Linked DNA regions of Homo sapiens: region 2 is linked to region 1. Evidence: fine-mapped expression QTL. A gene starts in region 1. The other region holds a variant in brackets. All regions are shown on one strand. Distances are between the middles of the regions. Region 1 holds the start of FAM178B (family with sequence similarity 178 member B). Region 2 holds the start of LOC101927053 (a long non-coding RNA gene).

Evidence for each region.
Region 2: its variant is fine-mapped to the expression of FAM178B in whole blood (TOPMed, PIP 0.99).

Annotation. Positions count from the first base shown.
Region 1 is chr2:96,979,072-96,995,154 of GRCh38, reverse strand. It overlaps FAM178B (family with sequence similarity 178 member B), which reads left to right and starts at 8,575. Exons shown (of 17, transcript NM_001122646.3): 1 at 8,575-8,914. The coding sequence starts at 8,842. LOC124906158 (small nucleolar RNA U13) reads left to right here and starts at 13,771; the gene lies at 13,771-13,873. RefSeq lists enhancers at 8,497-9,017, 9,018-9,538.
Region 2 is chr2:96,913,857-96,929,939 of GRCh38, reverse strand. It overlaps FAM178B (family with sequence similarity 178 member B), which reads left to right. Exons shown (of 17, transcript NM_001122646.3): 9 at 620-734; 10 at 6,357-6,450; 11 at 8,286-8,462; 12 at 8,678-8,775. It overlaps LOC101927053 (a long non-coding RNA gene), which reads right to left and starts at 10,834. Exons shown (of 3, transcript NR_110209.1): 1 at 10,497-10,834; 2 at 10,038-10,165; 3 at 4,103-5,896. RefSeq lists enhancers at 2,235-2,948, 16,017-16,083. The variant G/T (reference allele first, on the strand shown) is at 5,723.

The DNA.
Region 1 (16,083 bases):
CCCATCATATCCTGGCCTCAGAAGAGGGGCTCCTCAGGGGACAGCCATCCCAGCCACACTCCGGCAAAGCTCAGTTCAGCTCTACTGCCCTCTTTCCTGTAGAACCACACAGGAGGATCATTAATTAGTTATTTGTGATGCCTAATTAAAAATCAGTTCCCCAGAAGTCTAGGGTGTGAGTTTTTGGTGATAGCAGGCTTGGTTTAGAATAAGACAAAATAATTTGTATAAGCAGCCTAACTCAATGCCAGGTGCAGGGCCGGGGCTCAACCAGTATTTGTTGAGTGTGAATCTGAGGGCTGAAATCTCCTAATGGGAATATGCATGTGCACACACATACACACAAACACACACACACACACACAGAGAGAAAGAGACAGAGAGAGAGAGAGAGAGAGAGAGAGAGAGAGAGAAACATGCCCAGGACAGATCTCTTCTCAAAGCAAAACGTGGAAAATGATTTTCATGGCTGGTGGTTCTGAGCAGAGTTGTTCCCAATACACAGAGTGGTTCTCAATACACACATCTGCAGTGTCTCCACCATGGAAAGATCTGACTGTCGGACTGAGGTCGGTTAGATAGGGTGGTCGTGGCCTCCCTTAAAGGGGAACGAACTTGACCGATTGGCAACTGCGTAAACTTCATCAGGCTCCTGGTTAGAATATCCTGCAGCAAAGAGGATGGAGAGCAGAAGGGAAATCCCCAAATTCAAGCAAGCACAGAAACCCATGATTAGTGTCCTTGGGCTGACCTACGCTCATTTTAATGCTAAAAAACACACAGGCCAGACGCGGTGGCTCACACCTGTAATCCCAGCACTTTGGGAGGCCAAGGTGGACGGATCACGAGGTCAAGAGATTGAGACCATCCTAGCCAACATGGTGAAATCCCGTCTCTACTAAAAATACAAAAATTAGCCAGGCGTGGTGGCAGGCGCCTGTAGTCCCAGCTACTCGGGAGGCTGAGGCAGGAGAATTGATTGAATCCAGGAGGCAGAGATTGCAGTGAGCTGAGATCGTGCCACTGCACTCCGGCCTGGTGACAGAGCGAGACTCTGTCTCAAAAAAATAAATAAAAAACACACCCCGGGTGGAGAATTAAAATGCTAATGAGACGTGTGTACTAGCATGTACAGCAATAGCACATGCACACCGAGGGTACCCCACAACATGCTTAACAGCAATGCCCATTCGCACTCTTTTATGAATAATCATGTAAATTTCCCATATAGGGAAGCACCTCACTGCCAGACAACTCTGTCTCACTTCTAAGCAGCCCGCTCTGGCCCAGCCGTCCCAGTATACCTTCGCTTTGCAATAAACTTCTTTACCTACTTTTGCTTTGTACTTGCTCTCAAATTCTTTTGTGCAGCAGTCAAGAACCTGAATCGGCCCAATGACACTGTAAGTTGGCAACTGCAGCAGGACCTGGGTAAACTGAGTCAAGAGGTAAGAATGATCTCACCACCTCATGGCTACAGGTCTAATCTTCCTCCTCTCTTTATATCCTCCTTTTGGCCACCTGAGAATTCCCTTCAGCTAAGACTGTCATGCTCCATCCAACTGGTTTCCAGTTCACCTGTGGGTGACTCATGGAGATGGGAAAGTTAGACTCTCCCCAAGTAGCTTGTGGCTGTCTTAGTCCAGCCAGACAGCTGGCACATATGAAAGTGATGGGGAAAAAGCCCAGGCTGCATAATGCCAGGTGACCTTTCAATCCGTCTTCTGCTGCTGATGATAACTATTACTTTTGTTCTTTAATCCCTTACGGGTGGGGCGATGAATTTTATTCCTTAATCTCCCAATTGGTTTCTTGGGTGAATCCTGTCAAATGTCTTGTCTGTCAGGAACACATTAGATTGTATGAACATTCTTATCGTGACCAAGTAAAAGATCTCAAAACTGGGGATCTCAGCCTTTTTGTATCCCTAATCAGACAACTTTGTCAATGTTTTAAAGCAAAGATCAGGCAAATAGAAAATGGGCCTTTCTTTTCTTTCTTTCTTTCTTTTTTTTTTTTTTTTTTGAGACAGAATTTCACTCTTGTTGCCCAGGCTGGAGTGCAATGGTGCAATCTCGATTCACTGCAACCTCCGCCTCCTTGGTTCAAGCGATTCTCCTACCTCAGCCTCCCAAGTAGCTGGGATCACAGGCATGCGCCACCATGACTGGCTAATTTTGTATTTTTAGTAGAGACGGGATTTCTCCATGTTGGTCAGGCTGGTTTCAAACTCCTGACCTCAGGTGATCTGCCCAACTTGGCCTCCCAAAGTGTTGGGATTACAGGGATGAGCCACGCACCTCGCCGAAAACGGGCCTTTCAATCAATTGATGCTCCCCCAACCCTAGTAGGCTTGGCTGTTTTCCAGATCCTTAAGTTGCTCTTTTTTCCCCTGCTTCATTTTCCCTTCATACAGTTGCTCTTTAAGAGAGGAAAATGGGATGTAGAGAGATCATGGTACCATAGAAATGTCAGCTCTAGGGCTGCCCACCCAAGTCCTGGGCCTTTAATAAGAGAACATCAGATGTACAGAAAAGGCCAGAAGAGTCTAAGCCCAGGAAAAGACTCCCTCAGCTAAATGAGGAAAAGAAGTTTATCTGCCTCATTCCACATTGGTCACTCACCAATAACTGTAAAGACAGGGACTAGAAGTGGTACCTCTCCTTGTGGGAAAACTGGTAAAACCACTTTTGGGAAGACTGTCAGCTGGCCATCAAGGTACGCTTGACACCAGGGACAGCAGGGCCTGGGAAGCCCAAGCGAAAGTAAGGGGACGCCCAAGCTAAATTTTGTCTCTTCAGGCTTAGAGCCTTCTTCATTTTTTTTTTTTTTTGACATTAGGCTACTAATCAAGATGGGTAACTGATATGGTTTGGGTCTGTGTCCCCACCCAAATCTCATGTTGAATTGCAATTCCCAATGTTCAGGGAGGGACCTGGTGGGAGGTGATTGGATCATGGGGGCTATTTCCTCCTTGCTATTCTTATGATAGTGAGTTTTCACGAGATCTGATGGTTTAAAAGTGTGTGGCACTTCCCCCTTCACTCTCTTTCTCTCTCTCCTATCACCATGTGAAAATGTACTTGCTTCCCCTTCACCTTCTGCCATGACTGTAAGTTCTTGAGGCCTCCCCAGCCATGCCTCCTGTACAGCCTGTAGAACTGTGAGTCAATTAAACCTCTTTTCTTTATAAATTACCCAGTCTCAGGTAGTTTTTATAGCGGTATGAGAGCGGAACAATACAGTAACCAACCCTCTGCTCACTGCCCCCTCAGATGCATTCTCCAAAATTGGTCTTATTTTAAACTGAATGGACTAGAAAAAAAAGAGACTTCTCTTCTTTTGTAATACAGCATGGCCCCAAACAATACCATTTTATTTATTTATTTATTTATTTGAGACGGAGTCTCGCTCTGTCGCCCAGGCTAGAGTGCAGTGGCGCGATCTCCGCTCACTGCAAGCTCCACTTCCCGTGTTCACGCCATTCTCCTGCCTCAGCCTCCCAAGTAGCGGGACTACAGGTGCCCACCACCACACCCGGCTCATTTTTTGTATTTTTAGTAGAGACGGGGTTTCACTGTGTTAGCCAGGATGATCTCGATCTCCTGACCTCGTGATCCGCCCACCTCGGCCTCCCAAAGTGCTGGGATTACCGGTGTGAGCCACCGTGCCTGGCCCAACAATACCATTTTATAATTAAACCTTTTTATAAAAGGAAAGGAAGGTCAGAAATTCCCCAAGGGCCCAGGGCAACCTGACATTATTCCTCCCTCTAACCAAACGGTTTTACATTAAGACAAGTCTCTGCCAGACGCAGTGGCTCATGCCTGTAATCACTTTGGGACTTTGGGAGGCCAAGGTGGGAGGCTGTCTTGAGCTCAGGAGACCAGCCTGGGCAACATAGTGAGGCCTTATCTCTATTAAAAAAAAAAATTAAAACCCACAAGTGTCTTAGAGACCAGTGACAAATGTGTTATGCCCATGTTGTTCAGAAGGGTTCAAGGGAATCTGATGTAATTCATGACACTGTATTAGGAAGTATGCCTCCCACTAACAGCTCTCCTTCTTCAAATCTAGTCCAAGGATCATTCCTCAAACCTCTAGAGCCTCTACTCCTTCTAGTGGTCCTTCCTCACCAGACTTGCAGTCTTCTACTGCACCTCCTCCATATCAACCCATTCACCCAGCACTCCCAGAAGGGCCCAGTCGCGCTAGGACACCCACTCAAACCAGAAAACAGGCTACTCCCTCGTAGGGAATTAACTAACAAAGAGGCAGGGACCATTCGAGTTCACATTCTTTTCTCAATGTCAGACTTAGCCCAAAGACTAAGCAGTTACCAGTTGATGTTATGCACTGCAGGGGACACCAAAGAGGGAACTCTACAACAATAAAAAAAAAAAATGATAATTTAGCAAATGCAACTGCTCAACAGGCTGTGTCCCTTCCATTTGTAGCAGGGGCTCCCATCCCAGAAACTATGGCTCCTGAGCTAGTGCCTGCACACACACAAACTGAAAGGGAGTGGGCAACTGAACAGGGATAATACCAAGACCCTAATGATGGTGGACCCAAAATTCAAATTTTTTTTTTTGAGATGGAGTCTTGCTCTGTCGCCCAAGCTGGAATGCAGTGGCACGATCTCGGCTCACTTTAAGCTCCGCCTCCCGGGTTCACGCCATTCTCCTGCCTCAGACTCCCAAGTAGCTGGGACTACAGGCGCCCGCCACCACGCCTGGCTAATTTTTTTGTATTTTTAGTAGAGACAGGGTTTCACCGTGTTAGCCAGGATGGTCTCGATCTCGTGACCTCGTGATCTGCCCACCTCAGCCTCCCAAAGTGCTGGGATTACAGGCGTGAGCCACCGTGCCCGGCCCCAAAATTCAAAAATTTTAATACCTCAAGGTCATCAATGCAAATTAATCAAAGGGGGTTACAGACACCTAGGAAGGGGCTCTCTAACGCTTTGGTCACATGAACCCTTAAGGGAACAGGCTTAGCTACTACTGTAAAAGCACACACTACAGCGAGACCACTTTACTCTATCAATAACCCAGAAAGGAAAATAAGGCCACTTCCATTACTGATGCCAGTACAGAGGAGAGGAAGGTACCCAGGGGAAGACAGACAGTTAGACTTTCCCTAAGTTCCACCAGTATAAAGATTTAAGCACTTACTGATCTCTACAGATACTTTCATGGGATAGATTGAAGCCTACTCCACCAAAACAGAAAAGGCACAAGTGCCTCTTAAAAGAAATCATTCCCCGATTTGGGCTACCTATGTCACTCCAAAGCGACAATGGCCCCTCCTTTGTTTCCAAAATAACCCAGCAAGTGCTACCACTCTAGGAGTAAGTGATCATTTACATGCTTCCTGGAGACCTCCATCCTCAGGAAAGCTAGAAAAAGCTACTTGTAAAGAAAACTCTGGCGAAGCTCTGGCAAGAGACTTCTGAGTCCTTATTAAAGTGATTGCCTCTAGCGTTCCTCCAAGTAAGAGCGGCTCCCAAGACCAATCTGCAACCCAGCACCTTTGAAATATTATATGGTCCTTTTGAGTCTTCACAGGGGTGCCTTGTAAAGGCATTAGAAAAATATACCAATGTAGATGCTGTCTCTGAGGCAGGTCAAATTCTTCTGGGGACTCATTTTATTAGTCAATCTGCTCCAGATATTAAGAGAAAGTTACAAAAACTGGCTGTAAGTCCCCAGGCACCAATGAATGAGCTAATTAATGTAGCCTTTGAAGTCTTCTATAATGAGACAGAGTAGAAGAGGCTAAAAAGTGAAAGAGGGAAGAGGCAAGAGACATAAACCAGGCCTCCGATTATTGGCCCTTGCTATCAGAGAGAACAAGCCAGTCCAGACCAAGCCCCAATCTGGGGACACCTGCTACACTTAAAACCAGGACACTGGCCCCAAAACTGCCAGACCAAGGGACAAAATGCCCAAAAGTCCGCTCCACCTAGACCATATCCACAATGCAGAGATGCCAGTCACCGGAAGCAGGACTGCCCCCAACTCCGTAGGGAGACAGGGGCTTCCAATTCCTTGATGGCCCTGACTAAAGACTGAGGAGACCCAAGGCTAACACTGGCTGTCATTCAGTCCCCATTACCACAGAGGAATCCAGTGACCCTGCACGTGGCAGGTGTAGCTAATTTTCTATTACATACAGGGACCAGCCTGTCAGTCCTTACATTCTGCCGTCGACCCTAGTAGGCCAAATAGGCCAAACACTGCACTGCCACGGGAATTGATGAAAAACCCGGACCAGATACTTTACCCAACCTTTTTACCTTTTTTTTTTTTTTTTTTTGAGATGGAATCTCACTCTGTTGCCCAGGCTGGAGTGCAGTGGCACCATCTCGGCTCACTGCAAGCTCCGCCTCCTGGGTTCATGCCATTCTCCTGCCTCAGCCTCCTGAGTAGCTGGGACTACAGGCGCCCACCACCACGCCCGGCTAATTTTTTGTATTTTTAGTAGAGACGGGGTTTCATCATGTTGGCCAGGATGGTCTTGATCTCCTGACCTCGTGATCCGCCTGCCTCGGCCTCCCAAAGTGCTGGGATTACAGGCGTGAGCCACCGTGCCCAGCCACCCAACCTTTAATTTGCAGACTCAAGGACGTGAATGCCTAACTCCCTTGTTGCTACCCTCGTTGGGGGCTTCTTTAAAACCAATGAAACCAACTGAACCCCTTCTCATAGGAGCACTCTCAAAAGCCCAGCTGACCACCATAACACACCATAGTCCAGAGAATCCAGGACATTGCCAGCTGGGTGCATCTCTCTAGGATAAAAACTGTTTCCCTTACGTTTCCACAGGACTCTACATCAACAACTAAAAATTAAAAATCCTTTTGTAAGCCTATAGAAGACCTAACATTCATTTTCAAGAAAAGATGCCAACACCCCAAATAAAGAGATTAATATTACTTTAACATAAGGTAGTCCCATCTCAGGTCTCCTATTTGTAGGAGCTCTTTTTGTTCTTCTGCTTGCTGAATAATGATGTGATGCTTCATTCTGCTACCTTTCATGGGACCTACAATAGCCATCTTATTACTACTGACCTTTGGTCCTTGCTTGTTTAAGCTCCTTTAAAGTCTGTGTCTTCTAGGTTACAACAATTCCTAGATTGATAGTTATGCAAGGATTTCAACTTATCCCAGTGGAGGATATGACCCCTATCACTTTAAATCAGGCAAGAAGAGACTTTCGGGCCCTGGTCCTGTCTCAGCACGAAGCAGCTCCAGAAAAAATGACCCAGCCCTCCACATTTCATAAGAACATGGACCCAAAGTCTCTGAGGGGGAAAATGAGGTCGGTTAGATACAGTGGTCATAGCCTCCTTTAAAGGGGAATGAACTTGCCAGATTGATGTAGAGAACAAACCGCCCACTGGTGCATAAACTGCATCAGGCTCCTAGTTAGAACATCCTGCAGCGAAGAGGATGAACAGCAGAAGGGAAAATCCCCAAATTCACACAAGTGCAGAAACCCATGATTAGAGTGTCCTTGGAATGACCTATGCTCATTTTAATGCTAAAAAACACACCCCTGGGTGAGGAATTAAAATGCTAATGAGACATGTGATGTGGTGTACTAGCACGCACATGCACATCTGGGAGACCCCGTAACATGCTTAACAGTAATGCCCATTCCCGCTCCTTTATGAATAATTATGTAAATCTCCCATAAAGGGAAGCTCATCACTGCCAAACAGACACAGCTATCTCACACGTGTGTGTGTGTGTGTGTGTGTGTTAGAGATGGGGGCTTGCTCTTTCGCCAGGCTGGAGTACAGTGCCACGATCTCGGCTCACTGCAACCTCTGCCTACGCCTCCCAGGCTCAAGTGATCCTCTCACCTCAGCCTCTGAAGTAGTTGGGGCTACAGGCACTGCACCACTATGCCCGGCTTTTTTTTTTTTTTTTTTTTTTTTTTTTTTTTTTTTTTTTTTTTTTTTTTGAGACGGCGTCTTGCTCTGCTGCCCAGGCTGGAGTGCGGTGGCGCGATCTCGGCTCATTGCAACCTCCACCTCCCTGGTTCAAGCAATTCCCCTGCCTCAGCCTCCCGCGCAACTGGGATTACAGGCGCACGCCAGCCACCAAGCCCGGTTAATGTTTTTTAATTTTTAGTAGAGACAGGGCTTCACCATGTTGGCCAGACTGGTCTGGAACTCCTGACCTCAGGCAATTCGCCCGCCTCGGCCTCCCAAAGTGCTGGGATTACAGGCGTGAGCCACCGCGCCCTGCCCACGCCAGGCTAATTTTTGTATTTTTAGTAGAGACGGGGTTTCGCCATGTCGCCCAGGCAGGTCTCTCACTCCTGGGCTCAAGCAATCGTCCCGTCTCAGCCTCCCAAAGTGCTGGGATTATAGGCATGAGACACCGCGCCAGGCCACTGTCTCACTGTCTTGGTAAATGCAAGCTACTACAAGTGCGCGTGACCCAGGACTGCCTGGGGGCAGGAGCTTCCGCCAGCCAATTCCCGCGCACGTGGATGCGCACGTGGAGGGCGAGCAGGAAGAGGGCGCGCACGTGGAGGGCTAACAGGAAGAGGGTGCGCACTTGGCCGGCGAGCTCCCCAGCTGGCGGCGGCGGCGGCTGTGAGCTGGCCGCTTGGTTTGGAGTCGGAACTCAATCCCCAGAACTGGATCTTTAGGTTCCACGTTGGCGGCCCTGGATCTAGGGACGCAACTCTTGGGGTCCTCCCACTGCGCCGCCTGGGGAGCCTGCTCCTGCTTCCTTTCCCGGCTAGCTGGCCCCGTCCTCTGAGGCCGTGCGAATTCCCGCCACCCTCCCTCACCCCGGAGCCCTGCCCTTCCCGCCCTATGTGGCCAAGGCTTCCAGGTGCGGGCCTCGCTCCACAACTCAGGAGGCAGGATCAGCGGCTCCATTTTACAGGTAAGGAAACTGAGGCCGAGGAACCGCAGGGGCGCGTGGTTAGCGCTCAGAGAGCACTCGACTTCCCTGGGACTCCTGGCTGGTCCAGGCCTTGCAGGTCAGCCCCGGTGCGGCCGCCGGGCTACTCTGGCGCTTTTCAGGTTCCTGCGACCCCGCGTGGTTCGGGTTCCGACGTGAGCCGGGCCCTCCTCTCCACAGGCCACTGCGCGGCCGGCCTTGGTGGGGTGGAACCTTAGATTGGTTTGAGAACTGGTTTATGTTTTGGTTGATGTGGCATGTTTTGTTTTGATTTTTAATGTTCCCCAGGGTGCAAAGGGTAGCTGGTGTTTTCTTTCCAGAAAGGCTTTCTATTCCCAGCCCCTGCCCGGTTTGATGGATGTGGAGTTTATGATGCTGGAGACCGTTTTCTTTGTGGGTAGAACGCATCTCCTTTCATCTTTCAAATTGTGAGCTCAGTCCTTGCTGACAGGAGCCGCTGCTCTCGCCAGCATTCCCAAGCTATTAAATATTTGTTTAAAAGGATGGATATAAAACATGATGTTAGGAATAAGGCGTCTTGAAAAAGCAGTATTCGCAGAAACAGCACCATTGTAATATTCTGAATTCATCTTGGCTCTTTTGACATCAGGGCCCAAAGCACTTGGGATTCCGTAATTATTTGGCCTCATGCTACACTTTAAGACAGATTATTTTATTTTTCTTGTAGTCAGGAAAGTAAAAGAACAAAAAAACTGAGATGACATGTTGAAATCTCACTGCGAGGACGCGAGGGAGGATGAGGGAAGCGGGGAGGGCGGCTGAACGCTAAAGGCTGGGGCTGGGGTTTGCAGGATTCGGGGAGACAAGAGCCCAGGCAGAGGGATGTGCTGGGCAGAGGGGGCGCCATCCATGGGCTGCATTGTAGAGTGAGCATGGCCAAGTCAAGGAGCTGAACAAGACGACTTCAGTCCTGAACCTGGAAAGAATGTGAGATGGAGGAGAAACAGGTCCTGGCTGGCGGGTATTGGGCCCCAGGAGGGAAAGAGATAACAAAGTTAAGTTTGGAGACTAACGCTGTCTCCTGTTTGACTGGGGGGCCTTCATATCCCCTCCCACGCTGTCAGGACACGTACTGTAGGCACTGGAGCAGGTCACACCAACTAGAATGATCGGTTTCCATCCATTCCGGGATGCATTTTTGTTCACATTTTAGCAGCTCTGAAGTTGGGCTGGGTCCCACAGTTTGTGTCTTTCTTTGTGTCATCGTTCACTTGGCAGCTTTTTGTCGGTCTTAGTGGCACAGAAAGTCACAGTGCCTTAAACCCAGCAGCATCTTAGCTGTGATGAAGGAGTCAGCCATGGCCTGAGTCCAGTAACTGCAGGATCCAGAGTTGGAGACGCAGGCAGAGAAGATGACCCACCTCAGCCTGCACCCTTTTGTTGTTTATGTCTTTGTCTTTGAAAGTGCTTGTTTCAAGGCATGTGAGGGAGGGGATTGGCAAAAGCAAAAACCTGGAAACAACAGATAGACAAATGAAAAATGTGTTACTTTGTGGTTGGGAGAGGGAAGAAACAGCTGGTAGCTGCATCTCCCTTCCAGGTAAAATTGGAATGCCATATAATCACTGGTAGATAGCACCTTTGAGTGAAAGGCATTTTGCAGCAGCTAGAGTCAGCTGCCCACTGAGCAGGCAGCCCTGGCCCAAGAGCCTCATAAGCAGCCAGCCAGTCTGAATACGCTGATTGGGCCAGTGAGCCCCAGGCTTCATCATCTGCTTGAGTCTTGGTGAGCCCTGGGTCTGTCCTATGACAGAAACTTCCTGCTGCTGTAAGCTCCTCTAGGGCAGAGACTGCATCTTCCTCATCCTTGAGGTCCCAATGCTCAGCATACTGCCTGACACATAGAAGATGCTAAATTGGGGTTTGTTGAGCGGGAACTGTATTGAACAGGTTGGGCAAATTGTCTTCCTGGTGGCGGAGTGAAAGTTTTTATGTACCACTTTGGCAGGGCACAGTGGCTCACACCCGTAATCCCAGCACTTTGGGAGGCTGAAGCGGCAGATCACAAGGTCAGGAGATCGAGACCAGCCTGGCCAACATGGTGAAACCCCATCACTACTAAAAATTAGCTGGGTGTGGTGGCACCTACCTGTAATCTCAGCTTCTCAGGAGGCTGAGGCAGGAGAATCGCTTGAACCCGGGAGGCGGAGGTTGCAGTGAACCGAGATTGTGCCATTACACTCCAGCCTGGGCAATAAGCGAAACTGTCTTGGAAAAAAAAATTCATAGCAGATTTATTCATAATACCTTGAAACAAGAAATAACTCAAATGCTCATCAACAGCGGAATGGATAAATAAGTAGTAGTTATTCATATGATGAAATATTGTATAGTAATAAAGATTACTGAACTGCTGCATGAACTACTGCTACAGGCATATAGCATGCAACAACATACATTTAGCAGTAGTTCGTGGATGATTTTCACATGCATAATGTTGAATAAAATATATGCAGAAGTGCACAAAATTGATGATTTGGCTGGATGCAGTGGCTCACGCCTGTAATCCCAGCGCTTTGTTAGCTGAGGTGACCAGATCACCTGAGCCTAGGAGTTTGAGACCAGCCTGGGCAACACAATGAAACTGTTTCTACAGAAAAATATAAAAATTAGCTGGGCATGGTGGCACATACCTGTAGTCCTAGCTACTCAGAAGGCTGAAGCAGGAGGATTGTTTGATCCCAGGAGGTTGAGGCTGCAGTGAGCTGTTATCACACCATCCGAGTCTGGGCAGCAGAGCGAGACTATGTCTCAAAAATATATATATATGATTTTATGTATGTGAAGTTCAAGAACAGGCAAAATAATCGGTGGTGATAGAGGCAGAGTAGTATAACCTTTGGGGTTATTGACTGGAGGAGGTACTTCTAGAATGTAAGAAATATTCAATATGTTGATCTGGTAATGGTTACCATATGTATGTATATGTGTATATATATGCACACACAGACACACATTTATACTAAATGTACACATATGTACATAAAAATCAATCATGCTGAACACTTAAGATTTGTGCATTTAGAGCCAGGCATGGTGGCTCATGGAATCCCAGCACTTTGGGAGGCTGAGGCAGGAGGATTGTTTGATCCCAGGAGTTCAAGGCTGACCTGGTCAAGGTAGCAAGAACCCTGTCTCTACAAAAATATTTTAAAATTAGCCAGGCATGGTGGTGTGTGCCTGCAGTCCTAGCTACTCGGGAGGCTGAGGCAGGCGGATTGCTTCGGCTCAAGAGCTGAAGGTGGCAGGAAGCTATGATGATGACAGTACACTCCAGTCTATGTGACAGAGAGAGACTATATCTCTAAAATAAAATAAATTAGACTGGGTGCAGTGGCTCACGCCTGTAATCCCAGCACTTTGGGAAGCCAAGGCAGGAGGATTGCTTGAGCCCAGGAGTTCAAGACCATCCTGGGCAACATAGCAAGAACCCTGTCTCTACAAAAAAAAAAAAAAAAAAAAAAAATTAGCTGGGCATGGTGGTGTGAACCTGCACTCCTAGCTACTCAGGAGGTTGAGGCAGGAGGGTTGCTTGGGCCCAGGAGTTCAAGGTTGCAGAGAGCTGTGATCATGACATTGCACTCCAGTCTACATGACAGAGACAGACTCTGTCTCTAACAAAAATAAATAAATAAATTAGGCCAGGTGCGGTGGCTCATGCCTGTAATCCCAGCACTGTGGGAGACTGAGGCGGGTGGATTGCTTGAGCTCAGGAGTTCGAGACCAGCCTGGGTAATATGGTGAAACTCCATCTCTACAAAAAATACAAAAATTAACCAGGCATGGTGGTGCACGCCTGTCGTCCCAGCTACTCGGGAAGCTGAGGTGGGAGGATGACTTGACGCTGGGAGGCAGAAGTTGCAGAGCCAAGATTGCACCGTTATACTCCAGCCTGGGTGACACAGCCAGACCCTGTCTCTAAAATAAAATAATAATATATATAAAGTATGTACATATACTATATGAATATATATATTTATGTACTGTAAGTTATACATCAATTAAAAAGTGAAGAATGTTTCTTGTGTGGGTTATGGATCCAAGTGTGAAATACAAAATAATAAAAATTCTCAAAGCTGGCATATGAAAATATGTTCATGACTTTGGAATAAACGAAGATTTTTTCTTTTTTTTTGAGACAGGGTCTTACTTTGTCACCCAGGCTGGAGTGCAGTAGTGCGATCACAGCTCACTGCAACCTTGACCTCCTGGACTCAGATGATCCTCCCACTCAGCCTCCCAAGTAGCTGGTACTGCAGGTGCACACCACCATGCCCAGCTAATTTTTGCGTTTTTTTGTAGAGACAGGGTTTCACTGTGTTGCCTGGGCTGGTCTCAAACTCTTGGACTCAAGCGATCTGCCTTTCTCAGCCTCCCAAAGTGCTGGGATTACAGGTGTGAGCCCCTGTGCCCAGCCTAGAGGACAGTTTCTTTCTTTCTTTTTTTTTTTTTTTTTTTTTTGAGACGGAGTCTCACTCTGTCACCCAGGCTATAGTGCAGTGGCGCCATCTCGGCTCACTGCAAGCTCCGCCTCCCAGGTTCACGCCATTCTCCTGCCTCAGCCTCCCGAGTAGCTGGGACTACAGGCATCCACCACCACGCCTGGCTGATTTTTAGTAGAGATGGGGTTTCACGTGTTGGCCAGGGTGACCTCGATCTCCTCACCTCGTGATCTGCCTGCCTTGGCCTCCCAAAGAGGACAGTTTCTTAAACAGGATACAGAAAGCACCAACTGCAGAAGAAAATGTTGATAAATTGGGCTACATTAAAGTTAAGGACTTTTCTTTATCGAAATATACCATTAATAGAGTGAAATGATCCTTTGTGGTTCATAAGCATGATGATTGAGTGTTCACGTGCATGTGTGAGATGTGCCACCCTGAGACCTCGTTACGAAGTCAACGTATTACCCATTTGAGATTACCAAAAAAGAGTGAGTTGGGCGCGGTGGCTCACACCTGTAATCCTAGCACTTTGGGAGGCTGAGGTGGGTGGATCCCTTGAGGCCAGGAGTTCGAGACTAGCCCAGACAACATGGTGAAACCCCATCTCTACTAAAAATACAAAAATTAACTGGGCATGGTGGCGGGTGCCTGTAATCCCAGCTACTTGGGAGGCTGAGGCAGGAGAATCACTTGGACCCGGGAGGTTGCAGTGAGCTGAGATCGCACCACTGCACTCCCACCTGGGTGACAGAGTAAGACTCCGTCTCAAAGAAAAAAAATAAATAGAATGAAAGAGAAGCCATTCAGTGGAATAAAATATTTGCAGCGCATATAACTGATCAAAGACTCATTTCAAGACTGTGTAAAGAATACTTCACAGATCTAAAATGGGCAATAGACTTGAATTGGCACTTTACAAAAGAAGATGTCTATAGGTACCCACAAAAATTTAAAATGTAAAAATTGAAAAAAAAAGATATCTAGGTCAGGACTCCATATGAAAAGGTGCTCAACCTCATTAGAACCAGGGAAACCCAAATTAAAAAATGCAAGGAGGCTGGCTCGGTTGCTCATGCCTGTAGTTCCAGCACTTTCGGAGGCCAGGGTGGGAGGATCACTTGAGCCCAGAAGTTTGAGACCAACCTGGGCAACATAGAAAGACCTCCACCTCTACAAAAAATAAAAAATTGCCTGGGCATTATGGCATGAATCTGTAGTTGTAGCTACACAAGAGGCTAAGTTAAGGCAGGAGGATTGCTTGAGGCCAAGAGTTCTAGGCTGCAGTGAGCTATGATCACACCACTGCACTCCAGCCTGGGTGACAGAGCAAGACCTCATCTCCAAAATTCTTTTTAAAATTAAATTTTAAATTACATAAGGAGACCGGACACAGTGGCTCACACCTGTAATCCCAGCACTTTGGGAGGCCGAGGTGGGAGGATCACTTGAGCTCAGGAGTTCTAAACCAGCCTGGGCAACATGGTGAAACCCTGTCTCTACTCAAAATACAAAAATTAGCTGGGTGTGGTGGTGCATGCCTGTAATCCCAGCTACTTGGGAAGCTGAGGCATGAGAATTGCTTAAAACGGGGAGGCGGAGGTTGCAGTGAGCCAAGATTGCGCACTACTGCACTCCAGCCTGGGTGACAGAGAGAGACTCTGTCTCAAAAAAACAAACAAAAAAACCCCACAAAGAAACACCATTACACGCTGACTAGAATGGCAAACATTTAAGATACCAGCAATCTCAAGTATTGACAAGGATGGAACAGGAGAATTCTGACATGTGGCTAGTAGGAGGATAAAACTTTAAAACTGTTTAGCCCTATCTACTATAATGGACATACCTATTCCCTGTGACCCATCAATATGATATGTAGGTACATTCTCAACAGAAATGTGACTCAGTGCAATCCCGACTCACGTCAGTCAGAATGGCTGTTACTCAAAAGTCAAAAAATAGCAAATGTTGGTGAGGATGCAGAGAAAAGGGAACACTTATACACAGTTGGTGGGAATGTAAATTAGTCAAACCTTTATGTGAAACAGTATGGAGATTTCTCAAAGAACTAAAAACAGAACTACCATTCAACCCACCAATCCCACTACTGGGTATCTTCCTGAAGGAAGATAAATTGTTATATCAAAACGACACTTGCACTCATATGTTTATCACAGCACTAGTCACAATAGCAAAGTTATGGAATCAACCTAAGTGTCCATCAACAGATGATTGGATAAAGAAAATGTGATATAGGATGGGTGCAGTGGCTCATGCCTGTAATTCCAGCACTTTGGAAGGCTAAGGCGGGCAGATTACTTGAGGTCAGGAGTTTGAGACCAGCTTGGCCAACATGATGAAACCCCGTCTCTACTAATAAAGTACAAAAATTGAGGTTGCAGTGAGTGAAGATCGTACCACTGCACTCCAGCCTGGATGACAGAGTGCGACTCTGTCTCAGGAAAAAAAAAAAAAAAAAAATGCCTGGGCGCAGTGGCTCACGCCTGTAATCCCAGCACTTTGGGAGGCTGAGGCAGGCAGATCACGAGGTCAGGAGATGGAGACCATCCTGGCCAACGTGGTGAAACCCCATCTCTACTAAAATACAAAAAATTAGCCAGGCATGGTGGTGTGTGTCTGTAGTCCCAGCTACTCAGGAGGCTGAGGCAGGGGAATTGCTTAAAC
Region 2 (16,083 bases), 65 kb after region 1:
GCCCGGCCGATGTGGTCAGACTTTATCATGAATGTTTGGTTAAATTGGGCAAGGGAAACTGGTCCCCATAGCGCACACTTGCTTAGGAGACACGCCCCAGGCTGTGGGAGGCAGGCGAGGTGTGCTCCCAGCAGGGATGGTGGACTAGGGATGCCCAAATGTTGCAGCAGCAAGAGTGCTGCAGAGGCTGCAGTGGGCTGAGTGTCAGCCTCGGTGCTTTGCAGCAAGAGAGTCTAAGGACGTGAGCCTGGTGTCCAGTGAGCCTTGTAGCTCGGGGCCTCTGGCACAGGACTCTTCGTGTCACTTGGCTGTGGGCAGCCGAGCACCCTGACTACTGCCTGATGTGGATGGCCAGATGGTCAGGGAGTGGTTGACCCAAGTGCAGCCATACCTTGAAGACCAGGTAAGAGAATATTCAAGAAAACATTGAAATTCACAAAGCCCCAGAAGTACTTGGAAACCACCAGTTGCTTCATTTCCCCAGATAACACCTGTGGTGTCAGAGAAGGCAAAAACTGGTTATCTTGGGCCAGGGGTCACGGCCAGCCCCTTCAGTGGGAGTGGTGCACCCTGCCCTCCGTTCCCCATTCTAACTCTCTGCTCCCTTTTGGCCTGACAGATGAAGACAAGCACCTGTGGTGCCCCTCACTGCAAGAAGTCAGGGAGGCATTCCACAGCCTGGGTGCCCACAGTCCTGCCCTGTACCCTCTGGGGCCCTTTTGGCACGGTGGCAGGTGAGTACTTCTGCTTCCTCACTGCCTTTTTCTTTCATATTTTTTAAGAGACAGGGTCTCTCTCTGTCACTCAGAACTGGAATACAGGGGTATAATCATAGCTCACTGCGGCCTCCACCTCCCAGGCTCAAGTGATCCTCCCACCTCAGCCTCCTGAGTAGCTGGGACTACAGGTACGCACCACCACGCCTGGCGAATTTTTTAATTTTTTGTAGAGGTGGCGGGGGGGGGTCTCCCTACGTTGTCCAGGCTAGTCTTGAACTCTTAGGCTCAAGCGATCCTTCTGCTTTGGCCTCCCAAAGTGCTGAGATTACAGGTATGAGCCACCCCATGCCCAGCCACCTGTTCTCTTGTTTGTTTGGAAGTTGCTGGACTCAGGCTGTATCCCATGTGTAGGGAATTACAGAACAACCACACACCCCCGCCTGAGGATCTGAGTATCACACCAGGAAGGAATTTCCTTGCTCCCAGCCTCAGGGAGATGGGAAGCCCCCAGGATGGATGAGCCTGTTTTTGGCACTTCCTGACTCAGCCCCCGCTGCCCCCACTCTCTGGTGAAACCCAGACTTCACAGCCTGGTTAGTATCCTTGCAGACACGTCCCAGTCCCTTGAGTCTCTTCAAGCCGCTTGTTTGGCCCGTTACCTAATATCCACTCAGGAACAGCAGGGCATGCTTTTATGTTCCCACAACCCTCAGTTTTGTGTCATGAGTGCCCCCGTTGAGCCCCGGGCTGACTTGCTCGTGGACAGTCATGATCATTTGCCTATGCCTGGTCCCTGCCTGTGGGGAGGAGTGCCACGTGATGCATAAATAGCTCTGGTGGGCGGATGGCGACTTAGCTTAAGGTCGTAAAAGTGTTATATATCGTCATCTTGTTCTACAAATTTTAGCACATCCAAACTCTCTTGAGAACCCTTGAAGAAGGTGATTTGAGATGGAACAGAGTGTTTTGAAGCCTGGAGGGGCTGTTGTATAGGACTTCCCCCCATGCTTCCCGCTGACAATCCGTCAGCGCCAGGAGGTGCCAGGCCCCCCTTCCCTCGCCTCGGCGGGCAGATGTTCCTCTGCATGGAAAGTGGGAGCTCTCCTAAGAACCTGTTCCACGACTGTGTTTAGCAATTGTCTGCCAAGCCAAACCACACTCAGCTCTGCTATAAATACCCCACACATGTGCCAGCCTGCCGTGCTCCTGCCCCTTTCCCTCCCGGAGCTCGCAGCTCCATGTCTGGTGTAATGAGCCACTTGCCTCCTCCTGGCACAGAGCTGCAATCGCACACCGTCTTGGATGAGCGGGGGAGAGAATTACACTCAGAAAGACAAATGAACGTCTGAGGCAGGCAGGGGCCGTGGAGTCCAGAAGAGCCACTTGTGACTGCTGTGATGAGTGTCCCTGTGTCCTCCTGGGAGTGGGAGGCGGCACTGGAGACATAGCCACTGGGTCTCGCTCTGCTCTGCAAAGAGCTGCTTCCCCCACTGCCTCCCGGTTCTCCCAGGATTTGACTGCGGCTTGCCCTTCATGCTGCGTGACAAATCCGTTGTCTCCAGAGGCAGAGTGGGCAGGAGAGATGAGAACTGTGGCCCTTTAAACACATCATCTCAAGTACTTTGGGACACAAACCCCGGCACGCAGACTTCAGCTTTCCCAGGCGCAGTTAAGCCTTGTGTGGGAGGAAAGCAGGGCTGTGTTGTCCTAGATCGGGCCCAGGGAGCTGCCAGGGCCTCATGTCGTGTCCCAGACACACCGTTTTAACATCTACCTCTTTTGGGCCCCAGACCTTGGCCTGGCGTTGACACCATTTCCCATCAGAGGATTCAGAACTACCCTCGAGGACCTGGCTGACAGCCGCAGGGCTGATTTCCCTGCTCCTGGCTCTGGGAGCAGGCTGGGGACCACCGGTCAAGCCCCTCAGGGCTGGGGAGGCTTTCCTGCCTGGAGCCCCTCCCCATGTCTTCCTCGGGGTAGGAGGATGGCGAAAATGCCTGGGTAGGTTTCCTGGGCTGCTGCGTTGTGTCATGGATTGGAGGGTGACCCCTCCGGAGTATTCGGGAAGCATCAAGGAGGTTCCAGCATCTCCTCCCCAAGGGTATGGCATCCTTCATGGATGCATGGGCCACAAGAGAAACCCCACGGCAGGCTATCTTCTCCCTGTGTTCCTTCTCGTCCTGGCTCCTCACCAACTCAGAGGCTGTCTTGTGCGAGCTGGCTCCGCCCAGGCATCTTTTTTCTGCTGACTTCCAGGGATGCCTCCATCCAGGGGAACGGATACCTCTGGGGCTTCTCCTGGGCTACCCACAGTGCCTCACAATGGCCAGGGCTCAAAATGAGGGCCTCAGACATCTGTGCATGTCCCCACCGTAACTGGGCTGTCTCTTTAGTTGCTCTGAGAAAGACAAGTCTTCCCACATTTCTTCCTAATCTCGGATTTCCTTAAAAGCCATCACCATCTCCCATCTAGCGCTTCCAGATTTCCTTTCAGAAAGATGCAGTCCTTCCGCAGCTGGGCCATGCAGATCTCCTGGCATCCAACTTGTTGGAAACAGTGGCCCTCTGCTCAATGATGAGACTGGGGAGGGGAAACAGGAGGACATTTCAAGGAAAGGATGGAGCGTGGATATGAATGGGAAGCGGGTGGTGGGGGAGCTCATCAGCATCCTCAGAGGGGCTCATGCCCACGCTGCAACACAGAATGGGACTTGCCAGGTGCCCCCATCTCCCCCAGGAGCACAAAGGAGGTCTTTAGGTAGCTGTGCATGGTCCTCCAAGGCTGTTCCTGCTACCAAGCCCAGCTGAAGTTAGAGCCCTGCTCTGATGCGCAGGCCTGGCCGCTGAAGACCAAAAGTCTGGAGCTGTTTCCTGGTGCCAGAAGCCTTGGCCACTTGGTTTTCTTTTCTTTTTTTTTTGAGACAGAGTTTCACTCTTGTTGCCCAGGCTGGAGTGCAGTGATGCCATCTCGGCTCACTGCAACCTCCGCCTCCGGGTTAAAGCGATTCTCCTGCCTCAGCCTCCTGAGTACCTGGGATTACAGGTGCGTACTACAATGCTTGCTAATTTTTGTATTTTTAGTAGAGATGGGGTTTCACCATGTTGGCCAGGCTGGTCTTGAACTTCTGACCTCAGGTGATCCACTCACCTCAGCCTCCCAAAGTGCTGGAATTACAGGCATGAGCCACCATGCCCCGCCAGCCACTTGGTTTTCAAAGGAGCAGCCTGGTGCAGAGACCAAAGGGGTAAATACATGACAATTAACACATTGACAGGGCGTCCTATCAAGTGAGGGGGCAATTGATTAAAGAGGCAGCTCTTGGTTAAGGTGGTAGTGGTGCTCATACACTGTACCTGCCATCTTCCCTCTGAGAATGTCAGAATGCCATGCAGATGGTAACTTTATTATTTTTTCAACTTTTGGGGGAAGAAGATGCGGAGACCTGGGTAGAGGCCAGTGACATGCCCCTTGTAAGGTTAATGAGTATTGAACGGTGTCTCCGAGACAGAAACCCAGTTCCTAGGTGCTGGCCACAGACCCTGGAGCCAGGCGTGGGACCAGTGAAGCTGCTTTGCTCATAAGAGTCCAATGGTGGGACCATCAGCTCACTCTAACCTGCTAAGCCCAGGAGGGGAGCAGGGATAATAGATAGGCCGTTGAATTCCCGGGCTGTGGCCCCTTGCTGGCAGCAGTGGTGGAGTTTCGGGGATCAGCTGATGCTGCAGCTCAGAACAGCAGCCACAGATGCCAGCAGTTTAGTCAAGTGATTCCTCTGAAAAGCGAGGATTAGAGGACCCCCATTATGTTGCCCATTAGTCCATGGGCTCACAAAGTTCTGGAACTCTGACCAGCCAGGCATTCACTTGGGAAGGCTGACATTTCTTTCCAAGGAGGACAGGGCTCTCCCCACAGCCACACTCCTCTCTGCAGCTCAAAAAACACATGTAACCACCTCACACCTTCAATGTTCCTTCTCCCCTTGGCAGCGTCTCTCTTCTGCAGATGTTTGTAGTCGACTCTGAGTGCCCCGTGCTGAGAAACCTGAAAGCACACCCACCTATGGCTGCGCGTGTTGCACGCTCAAGGCTGGTACGAACCAGAGCTTCCCCTCACGTACTGGCGCAGGCCCAGCCTGCGCCCAGATGTGCAAATGCCAGCCTTACCCATTCAGTTAGGGCCCTAATAAATGCTGAAATCTGGAAGAAGGACTGAGCCCAGCCACAGTTTCCACTCCCCCACCAAGTTTGGTTTGTCGGCACCAACTTCCTGGTACCTCGGAGACAGATCTCTCCTCCTTCCCCTCTGAGCCCAGCGCCAGTGCCAAGCAGAGAAGAGCAGAGACTTCACAGGAGCTGTAGGACAGTGCTCTTCCTCCCCTGTGCCAGGGGGCTGCCTGGAGCCTGCTGTCATCAGCAGTGTGGTTGTCATCAATATCTTCACTTACCACTGTTAGCAGGAACCTTAAGCCGTTTCTTAAGAGTGGAGAAGTGGGTGAGACAGCAGAGGGGACCCTCATCATAAGCTCACTTAACATACTTGAAATCAACAATGTACATTCGGCCATACGATGAAGGTGATCCCGCCCAGGCTCTCGTCCTGTGAGCGCGTGCCTGGGAGGGAGGCTTGTGGAAAGGGTGATGAGACTGCCATCCACAAAGCCCCACCGAGGTCCCCCTCACCGTAAGCATCTCACCACCCTGCGTGTGGCTTGATCTTTAAAGGGGGGGATTTTTCTTTCCCCAGCCCTGGTCTCTAACATCATCTGGTGCTCAGCCAGATTGGGTCCGTCACTCGGGGAAACTGGCCATGCAGGTCTTATCAGCAGACAGCACATCAGCTCAGGGTGACACCTTTGGAGGGGGTTTTCAGGGATGTTTTGTTCTGATTTCCCCCATACTTGCTGGCTTGTGAGCCAGCCCGTGTCAGCTACCACGTGGTGCACTTTGCAGTGTATGCAGGCTCACCCTTGTCGAACGGACCCAGGGAGAACTCACGGACTTTG[G/T]GGGGATTGGAAGTGTGATTTTCTGGTTTCCAAGTCCTGGAAAACTAAAGCTCGAGGCCTCACCTGAACGGTAGCATGTGGGAGCCAGTCCCCAAGGAGCCCCCCTCCATGTGTCCCCCATTCTTAGAGTTCACATAGTTCTGTAGCCTCCTCCTACACCAAGTCAGGTCGGCCCTGTGTGACCAGTAGAAGAGATGGGATGTCACTTTCGAGGTTAGGTTGTGGAAGGTTGTGGCTCTGTCTTGGGCATATTCTCTCTCCCTCTCTCTTTCACCACTGGCTTTGGAGAACCAGCGGCCATGTGGAGAAACTCTGTGGAGAGGCCCTGGGGCCTGTGGATCAGTGACCAGGTGAGTGAGCCGGGAGGCAGGCCCTCCAGCCTGTAGGCTCAGGTGACCGCAGCCCCACCCAACATCTTGAGGGCAACATCCGAGAGACCCCCGAGCCAGGACCACCCAACAGAGCTGCCCTGGATTCTTGGCCCTCAGAAACTCATGAGATCATCTGTGTGGAAGAATTTGCTGTGTCCAGCGGATGAGCAGCCTCAGGGCAGCAGTGTCCCACTTTGCGCCTCACTCCTGCCCCTGTGCCCCCTCCTGGGTTTCCCATCGTCACTGTTGTTGTCTTACCACAGGGTGCTTCCAGGCGAGGCTGGCCTGAATGAGAATGAGGAGCAGGACGCTCCCCAAGAGATTGCCTTGGACATCAGCCTGGGCCACATCTACAAGGTGAGTCAAGCCGCCTGCCTCATGCAGGGCACTCTCGGCTTACAGTTCAGACCCATTCAGCAGCTAAATTCCAGGAGCATCACGGAGAATCTCCGGCGAGCTCAGCACCATGGCAGGCACTGTGCTGGCTGTGGGCCGGATGCTACAGAAACTGTGTTATCGGACACGGGTCCTGATCTAGGCCCCAAGAGAGAGTTCTTGTACAAGAAAGAATTGGGGCCAGGCATGGTGGCTCATGCCTGTAATCCCAGCGCTTTGGGAGGCTGAGGCAGGTGGATCATTTGAGGTCAGGAGTTCCAGACCAGCCTGACCAACATGGTGAAACCCCATCTGTACTAAAAATACAAAAAAAAATCAGCCGGGCATGGTGGCGGACACCTGTAGTCCCATCTGCTCAGGAGGCTGAGACAGGAGAATTGCCTGACCCTGAGAGGCAGAGGTTGTAGTGAGCCGAGATGGCACCACTGCACTCCAGCCTGGGCGACAGAGCGAGACTCCATCTCAAAAAAACAAAAAGGCTGGATGCAGTGGCTCATGCCTGTAATGCCAGCACTTTGGGAGGCTGAGGCGGGTGGATCACCTGAGGTCAGGAGTTCGAGACCAGCCTGGCTAACATGGCAAAACCCCGTCTCTACACAAACTACAAAAATTAGCCAGGCGTGGAGGCTGAGGCAGGAGAATTGCTTGAAACTGGGAAGTGGAGGTTGCAGTGAGCTGAGATTGCACCATTGCACTCCAGCCTGGGCAACAAGAGAGAAACTCCATCTCAAAAATAAAAAGAATTGGAAGCAAATCCATAGAGTAAAATGAAAGCAAGTTTATTAAGAAAGTAAACGAATAGGCCAGGTATGGTGGCTCATGCCTGTAATCTTAGCACTTTGGGAGGCCAACGTGGGTGAATCACCTGCAGTTAGGAGTTCAAGATCAGCCTGGCCAACATGGTGAAACCCCGTCTCTACTAAACATACAATAATTAGTCGGGCGCGGTGGCGCGTGCCTGTAATCCCAGCTACTTGGGAAGCTGAGGCAGGAGAATTGCTGGAACCCGGGAGGCGGAGGTCGCAGTGAGCCAAGATGGCGCCACTGCACTCCAGCCTGGGTGACAGAGCAAGACTCTGTCTCAAAAAAAAGTAAAAGAATAAAGAATGGCTACTTCATAGGCAGAGCAGCCCCAAGGGCTGCTGGTGTAGTATTTTTATGGTTATTTCTTGATTATGTGCTAAGTAAGAGGTGGATTATGAGTTTTCTGGGAAAGGGGTGGGCAATTCCCAGAACTGAGGGTTCTTACCCTTTTTAGACCATATAGGGTAACTTCCTGACATTGCCACGGCATGTGTAAACTGTTATGGTACTGGTGGGAGTGTCTTTTAGCATGCTAATTCACTGTTATTAGCATATAATAAGCAGTGAGGCCGACCAGAGATCACTCTGGTCATCATCTTGGTTTTGGTGGTATCTGGCCAGCCTCTTTACTGCAACCTGTTTTATCAGCGGGGTCTTTGTGAGCTGTATCGTGCCAACCTCCTATCTCATCCTGTAAGAATACCTAACCTCCTGGGAATGCAGCCCAGTAGGTCTCAGCCTTGTTTTACCCAGCCCCTATTCAAGATGGAGTTGCTCTGGTTCAAACGCCTCTGACAAGCACACTCTCCACACCTGTGCCTGCCACCCAGGACCCTGCAGGGGCCTCACTGTTTCCTGAGCTCCTACCCAACATGGCCGCGGGGCTCACAGTACCATCCCTTCTGCCTAAGTGTCTCCCAGGGAACTGGTCCTCGAAGTACTCTCCCGTTCCCCCATGCCCTGGCCACCCCTGCCCTCTTTTCTCTCTCCAGTTTCTGGCGCTGTGTGCCCAGGCCCAGCCGGGGGCCTACACTGATGAGAACCTCATGGGACTGATTGAGCTGCTGTGCCGCACCAGCCTGGACGTGGGGCTCCGCCTGCTGCCCAAAGTTGACCTCCAGCAGCTTCTCCTCTTGCTCCTGGAGAACATCCGGGAGTGGCCAGGGAAGGTACTAGACGCCCAGAGCCTGGTCCTCATACAGCTTCATCACTAGGGACCAAGGTGGCCCCTAGAGTGCCCTGGGTGGGGATGGCACTGCCTGGAGGTCATCGGAATGTCCCTGATCTCCGTGACTGCCCACTTACTCCCCTGTGCGGGCTGGGTGGCGAGAGCAAGGGGAAGGCGGTGTCCTCCTGTAGCCCATGGGGTGCCGTTCTCCTGCAGCTCCAGGAACTGTGCTGCACCCTGAGCTGGGTGTCTGACCACCACCACAACCTGCTGGCCCTCGTGCAGTTCTTCCCAGACATGACCTCCCGGAGCAGGTGCGTGCTGCTCCCCCGCTGCCTCCTCCCTCTCACACGCATCTCTTCGGGGTCTTGTAGGGATCCAGAGTCCTCCCCATCAGCCCCAACAAACCTCCCCTGCCCAATTTCTAATCCCCAGGAGGGAGAACTAAAAATATAACTCACTAATGAGTTCTTTACAAATGAAAAAAAGCTTAATTTTCTTAACATGGTCTTATTAGCAAAACAATTGCCTTGTGCAATTAGCTCCTGCCTGCAGGGCCCCCACTCTCCTTTCTTTGGGGCTCCCTCCCCAGTCTTCAGCTCCTCCTCGTCATTCAGACCTCAGCTGAATTCTGTCCCCTGATCACCCGACTCCCACTCGCACACTCTCGATTCATCCTTCTGTTTTCTTTTCTGCCTAGCATTTACCCATGCCAGAAATTATGTTACTCTTTGTTTCCTTGTTTATGGCTGTGGCTTTCCTCGAAGTTACCTCTACCAGAACAGCTACCTTGTCAGGGTCACTGCCATATTGTCCCAGATCTAGAACAGTGCCTAGCGTGCTGTTCGGCGCTCTGTAAATTTTTTTTTTCTTCTTCTTGAGACAGAGTCTTGCTCTGTCACCCAGGCTGGAGTGCAGTGGTGCGATCTCGGCTCGCTGCAAGCTCCACCTTCTGGGTTCACGCCATACTCCTGCCTCAGCCTCCCGAGTAGCTGGGACTACAGGCGCCCGCCACCACACTTAGCTAATTTTTATATTTTTAGTGGAGACAGGGTTTCACCGTGTTAGCCAGGATGGTCTCAATCTCCTGACCTCGTGATGTGCCTGCCTCGGTCTCCCAAAGTGCTGAGATTACAGGCATGAGCCACCACGCCTGGCCTGTAAATTCTTTTCGAATGAATGAAGTGGGTAAACAAACTCAGCCCAGGAGGAGATAAGGCCCATTGGCTGAATCTGGCCCGGCTTCTCTCTCCACTTTCCTTCTCCCACTTTTGGCTACGGTCTTACAGGATTGCCTGCCCTTTCCGGAGCAGACCACTCCCATCCACTCGCCTTGCTCTTCTCTCTCCCTCTTCCCTTCTCTTTCTGGGCCTGTCCCTTTGCAGCTCCTCCTGCCTAGAATGACTCCTTTCCTACCCCTCAACTTTGGCAGACACCTCTGTGTTACCCTCCACTGGGACCCCTTCCCTTCCCCTGCACTGTTCCAAGGGTGGTCTCTGGGAGCCGGCTTGGAGTTTGAATCGCCTCACACCCCAGGGCCCAGCCTGGTAGAGGCTCTGCTTGTTGACTAAGTTACCTTCAGTTGTCCTGGGCTCCGCTTCAGTGCTGAGCAGGCAGTCCCATCTCTTTCTGTCTTTCCTGGGAATCTGGCTGGCAGAGAGGCAGCCTGTGCACAGTTGGGAGAGGGCAGGTTTCATCCTCTCTCTGAAAGAATGGGACTTCTGGAAGCTCTGTCAGAGGACTCCAGGGGCCTCAGTGAGGGAGGCTGCCTGCAGCCCAGCAGCCTGGTATTTCTTCATGGGATGGAGAGGCCGACCCTGCCTCCTGATTCCCTGTTCTCCCCAGACCGCCCATCCACTCTGCTTTGCCAGCTGGAAATTACAGTCCTAGAGGTTTCTGCCATCCCCACCTGTTACCCCTTTCGTCCCTAAATCCTGTCCTTTCTGCCTTCTGTATCCTAAATCCAACTCCGTGACAGCCAGGACCATGTCTGGCTCACGTAAATCAGTCACCTCCTTTCATCTCACCGGCTCACCTGGAGGGTGGCAGAGGCATTTCTTCCTCTTCTCCAAAGTCTGCCTGCTCTGTAGATGCCTGGGGGTTCCTGTGATGATCACGTCTCTGCCTTACCATGCTCCCCATTGCCTGCAGGGCCAGGTGCAAATTCTTAGGCTGGTCCCTAGGCCCCCTCATCCACCTCGTCCAGCCAGTTTCTCATTTGCTCCATCCAGGGCATGGTGTTTGTGGTTGTTTTTCTCACACATACACACAATAAACCTCACTCTTTTCACAGCTGCATAGTATTTCCCTAGTGTGTGTGCCACTGTAGTCTCCTAATGTAGCAGGGCGACCACAGTCCAGAACCCCTCAGACACCAAGTTGTGGAAGGAAAGGGCTTTATTCAGCTGGGAGCATTGACGGGCTCACGTCTCCAAAAACCGAGCTGCTTGAGTCAGCAATTCCTGTCGCTTTTAAGGGCTTACAACTCTAAGAGAGCCCGCGTGAGAGGGTCGTGATCGATTGAGCAAGCCGTGGGTACGTGACTGGGGGCTGCATGCACTGGTAATCAGAATGGAACAGAACAGGACAGGGTTTTTCACAGTGCTGTCCCGTGTAATGTCTGGAATCTATAGATAACATAAACCGGTTAAGTCAGGGGTCAGTCTGTAACTACCAGGCCTGGAACGCAGCACTGGGCTGTCTGACTACTGATTTCATTTCTTTCTTTTCTTTAACTCCTACTTTTTCTTTGAGGCAGAAATTGGGCATAAGATAACATGAGGGGTGGTGTCCTCCCTTACTAATACTGGACATTCTTCCAGTGACTGTTTAGTGTCTGTGCAGATATTTCTATGAGATAAATTCCTTGATGTGAAATTGCAACCCTAAAGTATGTAAAGCTGGACCTATTAGTAACACCACCAAATAGGTATGAAAGTGCATATTTTTCTGCATTCTCATTAATACTACATATTCCCAGTTTTGTTTTTGAGTTTTAGTCAATCTGGTGAGTGGAAAACATCATCCTGTGGTTCTAATTTTCATTTCCCTGATTGCCAGTGAAACTGAGTATCTTTTCATGTATTTATTGGCCTTTTGTGTTTCTCTTACTGTAAATTACCTTTTGGTATTTCTTACCCACTTTCCTATCAGTTAATTTATCTTCTTATCAACTCTGTTGATCTTCATGTTGCTTATTATGTTACAGTATGTTTTCTCCAAAGGTTATATAGATTGTCCTTTTTAAATCTTTATGTATGGTACCTTTCAGTGAACTGGAATTTTTTTTCTTTTTTTTTTTACTTTTTCAGTCCTTTTTTTTTTTATTTTAGAATAGATTTAGATTTACAGGACAGTTTTATGGATAATGCAGAGAATTGATTGGGATTTTTGTGTAATGTAATCTTTCCATGTGGAAGACGAAGGGTTTCCCCACCAAGACCATAAAGATAGTGTGCTTTCTTCTCTTTCAGGACTGGCTTTACTTTGTGTCCATCAGCTCTTAATCCCAACTCAAATCTGTTTGTCCTTGGTATGAGAGAAGGATCTAACTTGATTTTTTCCATCCCCAAACAGCCAGTGGGGACCCAACGTCAATTTTTCTGCCTTTTGTTTTGTTTTTTGAGAGAGGGTCTCACTCTGTCACCCAGGCTGGAGTGCAGTGGTACCATCATGGCTCACTGCAGCCTCGACCTCTTGGGATCAAGTAATCCTCCTGCCTCAACCTCCTTAGTAGCTAGGACTACAGACAGATGCCAACACACCCATCTAATTTTTAAATTTTTAGTAGAGACAAGGTCTCCCTATGTTGTGCAGGCCGATCTCAAATCCCTGGGCTGAAGTGATCTTCCCACTTCAGCCTCCCAAACTGCTGGGATCACGGGTGTGAGCCACCATGCCTCAGCTTTTTGGTCTTAATAATTCATCCTTTCAAGACAGATTTGAAGCTACCTTCTCCATATCCTAAGTTTATGACTTCACTCCTTCATCTGCTAGCCATGTTAAACTGTGATTTCATGAATCAGTGTCTTTTGTGGAATCTGTGGGTAGCTCCAGGGCCCATGGCAATTGCCCTTTAAATGCCAGGAAATGAATGAAACAGAGCATCTTGCGCCTGCCTTTCAGGCAGCCACGTCAGCAGGGTGATGCTTTGTGCCAAGAGCTTTACTAGGAAGGAGGGTGCCTTATCGGGATCAGTGTTATTGATTTTATTTTTCTAAATAGATAAAAGCATTCAAATAAAACAAAATTCGTAAGGTACCAAGGAGTACCTTTTTGAAAGTACTCCTTTCAAATTTGATGTTGAAAATGCGCTTCTTCCCCTGAGCCAGAGCCACCTGGCTGGCCGCCAGCCTCTGTCTGCGTGTGCACGTACCCGCCGTTTCCGCACCTTCTTTGCTCTTCAGGGTGTGTTCTGGCCGTCATCCCTGATTGGGTTGTAAAGGGCTCCTAATTCTTTTTTCCTGCCGCGTTGTACTCACTGTGGGTCTTCAGTGAGCTGCTGCTCCACTGTGCTTCCCGCGGCGGCCACAGAGCTTACTGGCTGCCTTCACTGGTGGCTGCCCCACTGGGCTCTGTGCCCAGACTGACCCCAGGAAGAAGGGCAGATTGGTGTACGAAGGGCTGTCACACTCTTTGTCTGCTCGACTGACTGGTTAAGCACAAAGCGAGAACTCCTGCTGACACTCATGCAGTACACCCGCAGCCCCTGCCTCAGCGTTCAAGACTTCATGGGATGCACTGCAAATGTAAGGAAGAGCTGGGCCTAACCATGAAAAATGAAAGTGAATACTAAGGCAGACCACCTGAAACAGAGCCAAGGGGAAGAGGAGGTTCTTGGAGGAACATCCACCTTGGGAGGTGGCGCCATTGGGGCAGCTCAGGCAGCTTTGGGAAGAGCAGCATGCCATCCCCACTTCTGTTCAGGGCTCCTGCAACTGCTTGCACTCTACTGAAAGCTGATGTCCCAGGCTCTGGGGATCCTCTTCCTTCACTGCCTGCGGCTATTCATTAAACATCCTGTGTGCGCTGCTTCAAAGCAGAAGGTCAGATGAAGCCAGCTCCCGCAGGCTGCCTGGTCAGATGGAGGAATGGACAAAGCCTGCGTAAAACGGCTCACGAAACCAGCCCTGACAATGACGTAGAGTTCCTTGCCTGGCAGACCAGAATCAATCCGAAAGGACAGTGCTGCCCAGTGTTGGCAGGATGTGAGGAAACAGGCATATGCTTCCCTGCTCATGAGATGCGGTCAGTAGTCCCTCTGGAGGCCAGTTTGGCAAAATCAAGCAAATGACTTTAAAATGTGCACACCCTTCAAAAAGCTAGATCGTTTTCTGGGGAACTAGATGGCAAAGATTCATTGACAAGGATGTTTGGCATAGCAATGTCATGATAGTGAAGAACTGGAAATTGCCTCAGTGCCCCACCATCGATTCAGTTCTGCCCGTGCTACGGAGTATTATATGGTACCTAAAAATGATGTCACAGGAAAATGGGAAAGTTAATGAAATACGCTGAGTGGAAAAAAGGCTTTGAAGCCATATGTAAAGTGTGATGCCAATTCTGTTTAGGGGAAAAGAAAGGCCATCTTTGGGTGTGAGGTTAATAGGAGTGTTTTTGGTTGCCTAGGGCTTATTTCCCCCTTTCTTTTTTTCTTTTTCTTTTTTTTTTTTTCCCACTCTGTCGCCCAGGCTGGAGTGCAATGGCACAGTCTCAGCTCACTGCAACCTCCGCCTCCCGTGTTTAAGCGATTCTCCTGCCTCAGCCTCCCAAGTGGCTGGGACTACAGGTGCGTGCCACCACACCCAGCTAATTTTTGTATTTTTAGTAGAGACGAGGTTTCTCCATGTTGGGCAGGCTGGTCTTGAACTCCTGACCTTGTGATCTGCCCGCCTCGCCCTCCCAAAGTGCTGGGATTATAGGCGTGAGCCACCGTGCCCATCCTCTTATTTCCCCTTTCTAAAGACCCTGTCGGCCTCCAAGCTCCTGCTCTTACCCCCACAGCCAGTTCTCACCAATTAGCCAGAATCACTTCTATTTAATAAGTTTTTAAAGTTTTGTTGGCTGGGTGCGGTGGCTCACACCTGTAATCCCAGCACTTTGGGAGGCCGAGGTGGGTGGATAACTTGAGGTCAGGAGTTCAAGACCAGCCTGGCCAACATGGTGAAACCCCGTCTCTACTAAAAATAGAAAAAAAAAAAAATTAGCTGGGCATGGTGGCATGCACCTGTAATCCCAGCTATTCAGGAGGCTGAGACAGGAGAATCATTTGAACCCGGGAGGCAGAGGTTGCAGTGAGCCGAGATTGTGCCATTGCACTCCAACCTAGGAGGCAGAGTGAGACTTCGTCTCAAAAAAAAAAAAAAATTTGGTTATAGATAATTTCAAGACATATACAAACGTTGAGAGGCTAGTAAAATGGACTCCATGTACCCATTTTCCATCTCAGCAAACACAGCCGTGGAGACTCCTCCTTCCCTCACCCATTGCCCCCCACCCCTGCCCCACATCATTGTGAATCAGAGCAAATGATTAGACTTATTTTATTCAGTACGTGTCTCTAAAAAGATAAGGTCTTGGTGGTTTGTTTGTTGTTGACAGAATCTCTTTCGCCGAGGCAGGAGTGCAGTGGTGCCATCCAGGCTCACTGCAGCTTCGACCTCCTGGGCTTAAGTGATCCTCCTGCCTCAGCCTCCCGAGTAGCTGGGACTACAGGCATGCACCATCCCACCTAGCTAACTTCTTTAAGTTTTTGTAGAGACAGGATCTCCCTGTGTTCCCCAGCCTGGTCTTAGACCCCTGGGCTCAAGTGATCCTCCCACCTTGGCTTCCCAAAGTGCTGAGATCACAGGCATGAGCCACAGTGCCCAGCCCTTGGTGGGTATTTTAAAACATAATTACAACATTATGATGACACCTAAAACACTGAACCATAAAAGAACTGTCATAAGCAATTGAGTCACTTCCCTGCTCCAGAATCTTCCAAGACTTTGCATCATCTTGGAAGGAAGCCTGGAGTCTTTAAGGTGGCCGCTAAGGCCCCTTTGCGGTGTGGCCCTGCCCTCTGCTCTTCTTCTCCCTGTCCCTGCGGTGCACTGGGCACTTGTGTCTTGATGCCCACCCTCCCTCATGCCCGCACGTTGGTAGGAGACTCCCCCCTTCTCATCATGGTGGTCTCTGCTCACATGTCACTGCCTCAGAGAGGTTTCACCTGATCCTTTTTTCCAAATGAGCTGCCACCTCAGGGCTCTGCACAACCTCCCTTTCCTTCATTTTTCTCCACGGACTACCAGGACCAGAAGTGAACTATGACCAGCCCTCCCCATGAGTATGAGCTCCCTGGGCGGGAGGGCCCCGTCCATCTCCCCCATGTCTGCATCCTCAGCACCCAGAACAGAGCGTGGACTAGAATATCACGGGTGCTGAGTAAATATTTGGCAAATAAGTAAAAGCCAACAATGTTTGGCTCTCTTCTGATCTCTTCCTGTGATGGAAATACATTGAGGTTTGCGGGGGGTGTGGGCTTCCTTCCTGTGTTGAGGAGGCGTCTTCCTCGCACCCTCCTCTGCACAGAAGCCGGGAGTCAGGCACTCCTTTGTTCCACCTCTGGGAGCGAGACCCAG